2 linked regions of the Homo sapiens genome follow. The protein of the gene in region 2 purifies or fractionates together with the protein of the main gene of each other region. This does not show direct contact. Each region holds a gene or a part of one and is shown on either strand. Other genes may lie near its edges.

Region 1 (3,656 bases), on a different chromosome or scaffold from region 2:
AGAGTACAGCGGCTCTGCCGCAGCAGCCATTTATAGCGGGACTATTTGACAAAGTGGGTGAGGCCCTTAGGCTAGATATCCAATGCCAAAATTATTAGGGCTTTTCTCAAATGGGATTTACCACCTTTTTGGCCTACTGCTGCTCCATGACAACAGGGGCCAGGGCCACTTCTTCCCCTTGGCCATCTTTCCTTTTGGCATCTGGGGCGGCTAGAGGAGAGAGGCTGCTGAAATGTCTCATCTTCAAGGAATCCTTCCCTCACCACCTGTTCCCCCACACTAGGTCAGAGACCCTTACTGACATGCTGTCATAGCACTCTATTCTACTTGAAAGGCATCTACTAGTTACAGTTAAATAATGGGATGTGCGATCATTTATTTGATTTTTGTCACTGCCTCTCCTTGGACTCTAAACTCCAAAGGACAGTGATTATATTTTGTTAATTGCTATGTCCTAACGCCTAATATGGTGTCTGGAATGCAGGAAACTTTCAATAAATATTAATACTTGGGCTGAGCGCAGCGGCTCATGCCTGTAATCCCAGCAGTTGGGGAGGCTCAAGCGGGCAGACCACCTGAGGTCGTGAGTTCAAGACCAGCCTGGCCAACATGGCAAAACCCCATCTCTACTAAAAATACAAAAATTAGCCAGGTGTGGTGGCGGGGTCCTGTAATCCCAGCTACTCACGAGGCTGAGGCAGGAGAATCGCTTCAACCCGGGAAGTGGAGCTTGCAGTGAGCCTAGATTGCGCCATTACATTACAGCCTGGGCGACAGAGTGAGACTCCATCTCAAAAAAAAATTAGGCCAGGCATGGTGGCTCATACCTGTAATCCCAGCACTCTGGGAGGCTGAGGTGGGCGGATCATGAGGTCAAGAGATTGAGACCATCCTGGCTAACACGGTGAAACCCTGTCTCTACTAAAAATACAAAAAATTAGCCGGGCATGCTGGCAGACGCCTGTAGTCCCAGCTACTCGGGAGGCTGAGGCAGCAGAATGGCATGAACCCGGGAGGTGGAGCTTGCAGTGAGCCGAGATTGTGCCACTGCACTCCAGCCTGGGCAACAGAGTGAGACTCTGTCTCAAAAAAAAAAAAAAAAATTCATAGTTGTTGAATGCATGTTTGAGCTGAGCCTGAAAGTTTTACCAGGCAGTAGAAACTGTAAAGAACAACCTAGTGGCTTGAAACTGCTTGGCATATTCAGAAACAGTGAGAAGTTAGGGGTGTGGTGTGGTGGGAAGAGACACCGATGAGTTAAGCAAGAGCAGCAGTTGAGTGCAGATCATAAGAATCTTAGAGAGCCATGTAGGTTGAGTGGTAAAATGCACAGAAAATTGACCATTTTAATCATTTTGAAGTATATAGTTCAGTGGAATTTTGTCCACTAAATGTGCCACCATCATCATTATCTAGTTCCAGAAGGTTTTTTTTCACCCCAAGAGGAAGCCTCATATCCATTAAGCAGTCACTCCCCTTACCCTCTCCTCAGCCCCTCACAACCACGAATCTGCCTTCTTTCCCCATGGATTTGCCTGTTCTGGGCATTTCCTATAAGTGGACCCATATCTTACATGCTCTTTTGTGTCAGGTTTCTTTCACTTAACATAATCTTGAAGTCCATCCATGTTGTACCATGTATTAATATCAGTTCTTCATTCCTTTTTTTTGGTTTTTGAGAAGGAGTCTCTCTCACTGTCGCTCAGGCTGGAGTGCAGTGATGAGATCTCGGCTCATTGTAACCACCGCCTCCCAGGTTCAAGCGATTCTCCTGCCTCAGCCTCCCAAGTAGCTGGGATTACAGGCACCCACCACCACGCCCAGCTAATTTTTTGTATTTTTAGTAGAGACAGGGTTTCACTATGTTGGCCAGGCTGGTCTCAAACTCCTGACCTCATGATCCGCCCACCTCAGCCTCCCAAAGTGCTGGAATTACAGGCATGAGCCATTGCACCTGGCCTCTTCATTCCTTTTTATGGCTGAATAATATTCTATCATATGGATAGATCATATTTCATTTTACCATACATCAGTTGATGGACATTTGGGTTGTTTTCATCTTTTGACTATTGTGAATAGAACTTCTATAGACATTCGCTGGGCGTGGTGGCTCACACCTGTAATCCCAGCACTTTGGGAGGCCGAGGCAGGTGGATCACGAGGTCAGGAGATTGAGAACATTCTGGCTAACACGGTGAAACCCCATCTCTACTAAAAATACAAAAAAATTAGCCGGGCGTGGTGGCAGGTGCCTGTAGTCCCAGCTACTCGGGAGGCTGAGGCAGGAGAATGGTGTGAACCCGGGAGGTGGAGCTTGCAGTGAGCCGAGATCACGCCACTGGACTCCAGCCTGGGCGACAGAGCCAGACTCCATCTCAAAAAAAAAAAAAAAAAAGAACTTCTATAGACTTTCATGTACAAGTTTTTGTTTGAATGTGTTTTTTTGTTTGTTTTTTGTTTTTTGAGACAGTCTCGCTCTGTCACCCAGGCTAGAGTGCAGTGGCGCCATCTCCACTCACTGCAACGTCCACCTCCTGGGCTCAAGTGATTCTCCTGCCTCAGCCTCCCCAAGTAACTGGGATTACAGGCACACACCACCACACCTGGCCAATTGTTGTATTTTTAGTAGAGATGGGGTTTCACCATGTTGGCCAGGCTGGTCTCGGACTCCTGACCTAAAGTGATCCAACTGTCTCAGCCTCCCAAAGTGTATTTGAATGCGTTTTTAATTCTTTTGGGTAAATTTGTAGGAGTGGAATTGCTGTGACATGTGATAACTCTGTAACTTTTTGAGGAAACACCAACATTTTCCAGAGTGGCCAAAGCATTTTACATTTCCACTGACAATGTCCAATTTCTCCACATCCTCAACAACACTTGTTATTTTACTTGTTTTTTTTATTATTCTATTTAATTATTATCCTAATGGGTATGGAGTGGTACCTCATCATGGTTTTGATTTGTGTTTTCCTAATGATTAATAACATTGAGCATCTTTTCATATGCTTGTTGGCCATTTCTTATCTTCTTTGGAGCAATGTTGGTTATATTTTTGGTATCATAACCAAGAAATCATTGCCAAATTCAGGATCAGAAAGAATTATACAAAGGAATCCATTGTTTTAAACGTAATTTATATTTTTTACTTATTTTTGTTTTATAGAGAGAAGGACTTTCAAAATTCAACAAGATCTATGAATTTGATTATCATCTGTATGGCCAGGTAGGTGCTAAAATATTTCTAAAATATTTCAATCATAAGCAAGAGAAAGTAGTCAGCCTCGTCATATGTAGAATATGTCGCTGTCTTAAGAATAACAACTGTTAACAACCTAAAGGTTCCTGGATATGGGGTGATCACTTTATAATTTATGAGGAGTTCTCTTTTTAATAAAATATGGTCCCATCTCAGCTCTTCATTACAAAAAAAAAAAGCTAATATACAATAGTTTGAGGAAAATTTAACTGATGCAAGAGGCGTCAGTTATACACCATATCATTAGAATGGTGATTGTATTCCTGTGACTTTTGGCTTTGAAGAGCTTATATTTATGTTTATTTCTTCCCAATCAGGTTTTTAAAAATGTCTTTAATAGAAGCTCCTCCCTCTCATTTTAATGATTTGGCAGAATAATAACTGCAAAAAGACTAACTGA
Region 2 (3,656 bases):
GTGGAATTTTTGGGTCACATAATAACTGTATGTTTACATTTTGGATAACTGTTAGAATTTTCCAAAGTGGTTGCACCTTTTACAGTCTCACCAGCAAGGAATGAACATTCTAATTTTGCCACATTCTTGCTAACACTTGCCATTGCCTGTCTTTTACTTTTAGTCATCCTAATGGTTATGAAGTGTTACCTCACTGTGATTTGGTTTGCAGTTCCCTAATGAGATTGAGCATCTTTTCATGTACTTATTGGGCATTTCTGTATCTTCTTGAAGAAATGTTTATTCAGCTTATTTGGCTGCGTTTTCATTGGGTTATTTGCTGTTTTATTGTGGAATCACGAGTTCTTTAAAATTCTGTATACTGTTCCCCTATAAGATGTATGATTGCAGATATTTTCTCTCATTCTTTGGGTTTTCTTTTCATTTTCTTATTGAAGTACAAATGTTTTTAATAATTTTGATGAGGTCCAATTTGTTTTTTCTTTTGTTTCTTGTGCTTTTCGGTGTCATGTCTAATAAATCATTGCCTAAACCAAGGTCACAAAGATTTATTCCTATGTTTTCTTCCAAGAGTTACAGTTTTAGCTCTTACATTTAGGTCTGTGATTCATTTGGAGTTAATTTTTCTACACACTGTGAGGTAGGGGTACAACTTCATTCTTTTCGATGTGGATACCCAGTTGTTTCAACACTGTTTGTTGAAAAAATTGTTCTTTCTCCTTGAATTGTCTTGGCACTTTTTTGTTTTAATTGAAAATCAGTTGACCATAAAAGTAAAGGTTTGTTTCTGGTCTATGAATTCTATTCCACTGATCTCCATGTCTGCCTTTATTCTAGTACCATACTGTTTTAATTACTGTAACTTGGCAGTGTTGAAATTAGAAGTGTGAGTTTCTGACTTGTTTTCTGTTTTGAGATTTTTTTAACTGTTTTGGGTTCATTACATTTCCATATGAATAATAGCAGCTTGTCAATTTCTGCAGAAAGCCATCTGGGATTTTGATTTTGTTGAATATATAGACAAATTGGAGAGTATTATCATCTTAACAATATTATTTCCCATGAGCATGGGTTGTCTTTTCATTTATTTAGATCTTCTTTAATTTCTATCTATGTTTTACAGTTTTCAGTGAAAAAGTCCTGCACTTCTTTGGTTAAATTTATTCCTAAGAGTTTTATTCTTTTTGATGCTATTTTGAATGCAGTTCTACTGGCACATGCTGCTGCACGTGGCTAATATTTTTTGTTAATTTTTTGGTAGAGATGGAGTCTCGCTGTGTTGCCCAGGCTGGTCTCAAATTCCTGGGCTCAAGGGATGCTCCTGTTTTGGCCTCCCAAAGCTCTGGGATTATAGGCATGAGCCAGCCGCACCCAGCTCCATTGATTTTTTTAAATATTGAGATTGTATCCTGCAACTTTGCTGAACTCATTTATTGGTTCTAATAATTTTTTGGGTTTTCTGAAGTGTGGATTCCTTAGGATTTCCTGTGTACAAGGTCATGCAGCTAGGCATGGTGGCTCACACCAGTAATCCCAGCACTTTGGGAGGCTGAGGCGGGTGGATCACTTCAGCCTAGGAGTTCGAGACCAGCCTGGGCAACATGGTAAAACTGAGTCTCTACAAAAAACACAAAAATTAGCAGGATGTGGTGGCTCATGCCTGTGGTCCCAGCTACTCGGGAGGCTGAGGCAAGAGGATTGCTTGAGCCGAGGAGGTGGAAGCTTCAGTGAGCCATGATTGTGCTACTGCACTCCAGCCTGGGCAACAGAGTGAGACCCTCTCCTTTTTTTTTTTTTTTTTTTTTTTTAAAGGAGGTAGAAGCTTCAGTGATCCATGATCGTGCTACTGCACTCCAGCCTGGGCAACAGAGTGAGACCATCTTTTTTTCCCCCCAAGACAGAATCTTGCGCTGTCACCCAGGCTGGAGTGCAGTGGTACCATCTCAGCTCGCTGCAACCTCTGCCTCCTGGGTTCAAGCTATTCTTCTGCCTCAGCCTCCTGAGTAGTTGGGATTAGAGGCGTGTGCCACCATGCCTGGCTAATTTTTGTATTTTTAGTAGAAACGGGCTTTCACCATGTTGGCCGGGCTGGTATTGAACTCCTGACCTCATGATCCGCCCACCTTGGCCTCCCAAAGTTCTGGGATTACAGGCGTGAGCCACTACACCTGGCCAACCATGTCTCTTAAAAAAAAAAAAAAAAAGAAAGAAAACAAAATACCATGCTGTCTGTCAGTAGAGATGAATTTACTACTTCCAATTTAGACATCTTTTATTTCTTCTCCTTGCCATGGCTAGAACCTCCAGTCAAATATTGAATGTAAGTGGGAAGAGTTGACATCCTTTCTTTTTCCTTCTTTTAGGGATAAAGCATCCAGTATTTAACTATTCTGTATGATGTTAGCTGTGGGTTCTTTGTATATACATTTTTATCAGGTTGAGGAAATAACCTTCTATATCTAGTTTGTTGAGTTTTTACTGTGGAATAGTTGTTGGCCTTTGTCAGTTGCTTTTCCTACATCTAATTGAGACAATACTGTGGTTTTTATCCTTTATTTTGTTAATATATGACATTGATTGAATTTTCAATATTACATTAACTTTGTATTCCTGGGAAAAATCTCTCTTGGTTATGGTGTATAACTCTTTGTATATGTTGCTGGATTCAGTTTGCTAGTATTTTGTTGAGGATTTTTGCATCTATATTCATAAACAGTTTTGCTCTGTGCTTCGTTGTTATGTTTTGGTTTTATCAGGGTAATACTGGTTTCATGGTGTGAATTAGGAAGTATTTCCTCTTCTGTATTTTGGAAGAGTTTGTGAAGGATAGATACTGTTTCTTAAAATGTTTGGTATAAATCACCGTTGTACTCTGAGCCTCAGCTTTTCTTTGTAGGAAGTTTTAAAGTTATGACTCAATCTCTTTGTTTGTTACAGCTCTCTGATCAGTTTTTTATTTCTGAGTCGGTTTTGCTAGTTTGTCTTTCTCGGAATTTGTTCATTTTATTTTAGTTATTTAATTTGTTGGTATGTAGTTCATATTATTTCCTTATAATGTTCTCTGTAATCTTTTGGGTTTCTGCAAAATTGGTAGTGCTTCCTCACTTTCTTCTATTCCTGAGTTTTGTAGTTTAAATCTTCTCTTCCCCGCCCCCAAACCTCCTTGGTCAGCCTAGCTTGTCAATTTTGTTGATCTTTTTGAGGAACTAACTTTTTTTTTTATATTCTTTGTTGTTTTTCTATTCTCTCTGTCATTTATTTCTGCCAGATGGAAGTTTTATTGACTAAAGATTTTTCTTCTTTTTAAATGTAGTCATTTACAGCTACAGATTTCTCAGTAAGTACTGCTTTAGCTGCATCTATAGGTTTTAGTGTATATTGTTTTCATTCCTTTTAAAGTTATCTTCTAATTTTCTCATGATTTCTTTTTTTGATCTATTGGCTGTTTAGGAGTGTGTTTAATTTTTGCATACTTGTGAATTTTCATTTTATTTTTATTGTAAGGTTTAAATTTCATTCTATTATTGTCTAAGAACAGTATTACTATGATTTCACTCCTTTTAAATTTATCGAAGCTTGAGTTATGGCCTAACATGGTCTGTCGGAGAATGTTTCATGTTTACATTAGAATAATGTGTATTCTGCTGTTCCTCAGG

The links.
Region 1: the proteins of SPIDR (region 2) and TOP3A purify together in Homo sapiens (affinity purification with mass spectrometry; one study listed by BioGRID and IntAct). This does not show direct contact.

Annotation. Positions count from the first base shown.
Region 1 is NC_000017.11:18,308,449-18,312,104, reverse strand, and holds part of TOP3A (DNA topoisomerase 3-alpha), read left to right. Parts: intron 1-3,163; coding exon 3,164-3,223; intron 3,224-3,656. UniProt on the Homo sapiens protein: Releases the supercoiling and torsional tension of DNA introduced during the DNA replication and transcription by transiently cleaving and rejoining one strand of the DNA duplex.
Region 2 is NC_000008.11:47,267,382-47,271,037, forward strand, and holds part of SPIDR (DNA repair-scaffolding protein), read left to right. Parts: intron 1-3,656. UniProt on the Homo sapiens protein: Plays a role in DNA double-strand break (DBS) repair via homologous recombination (HR).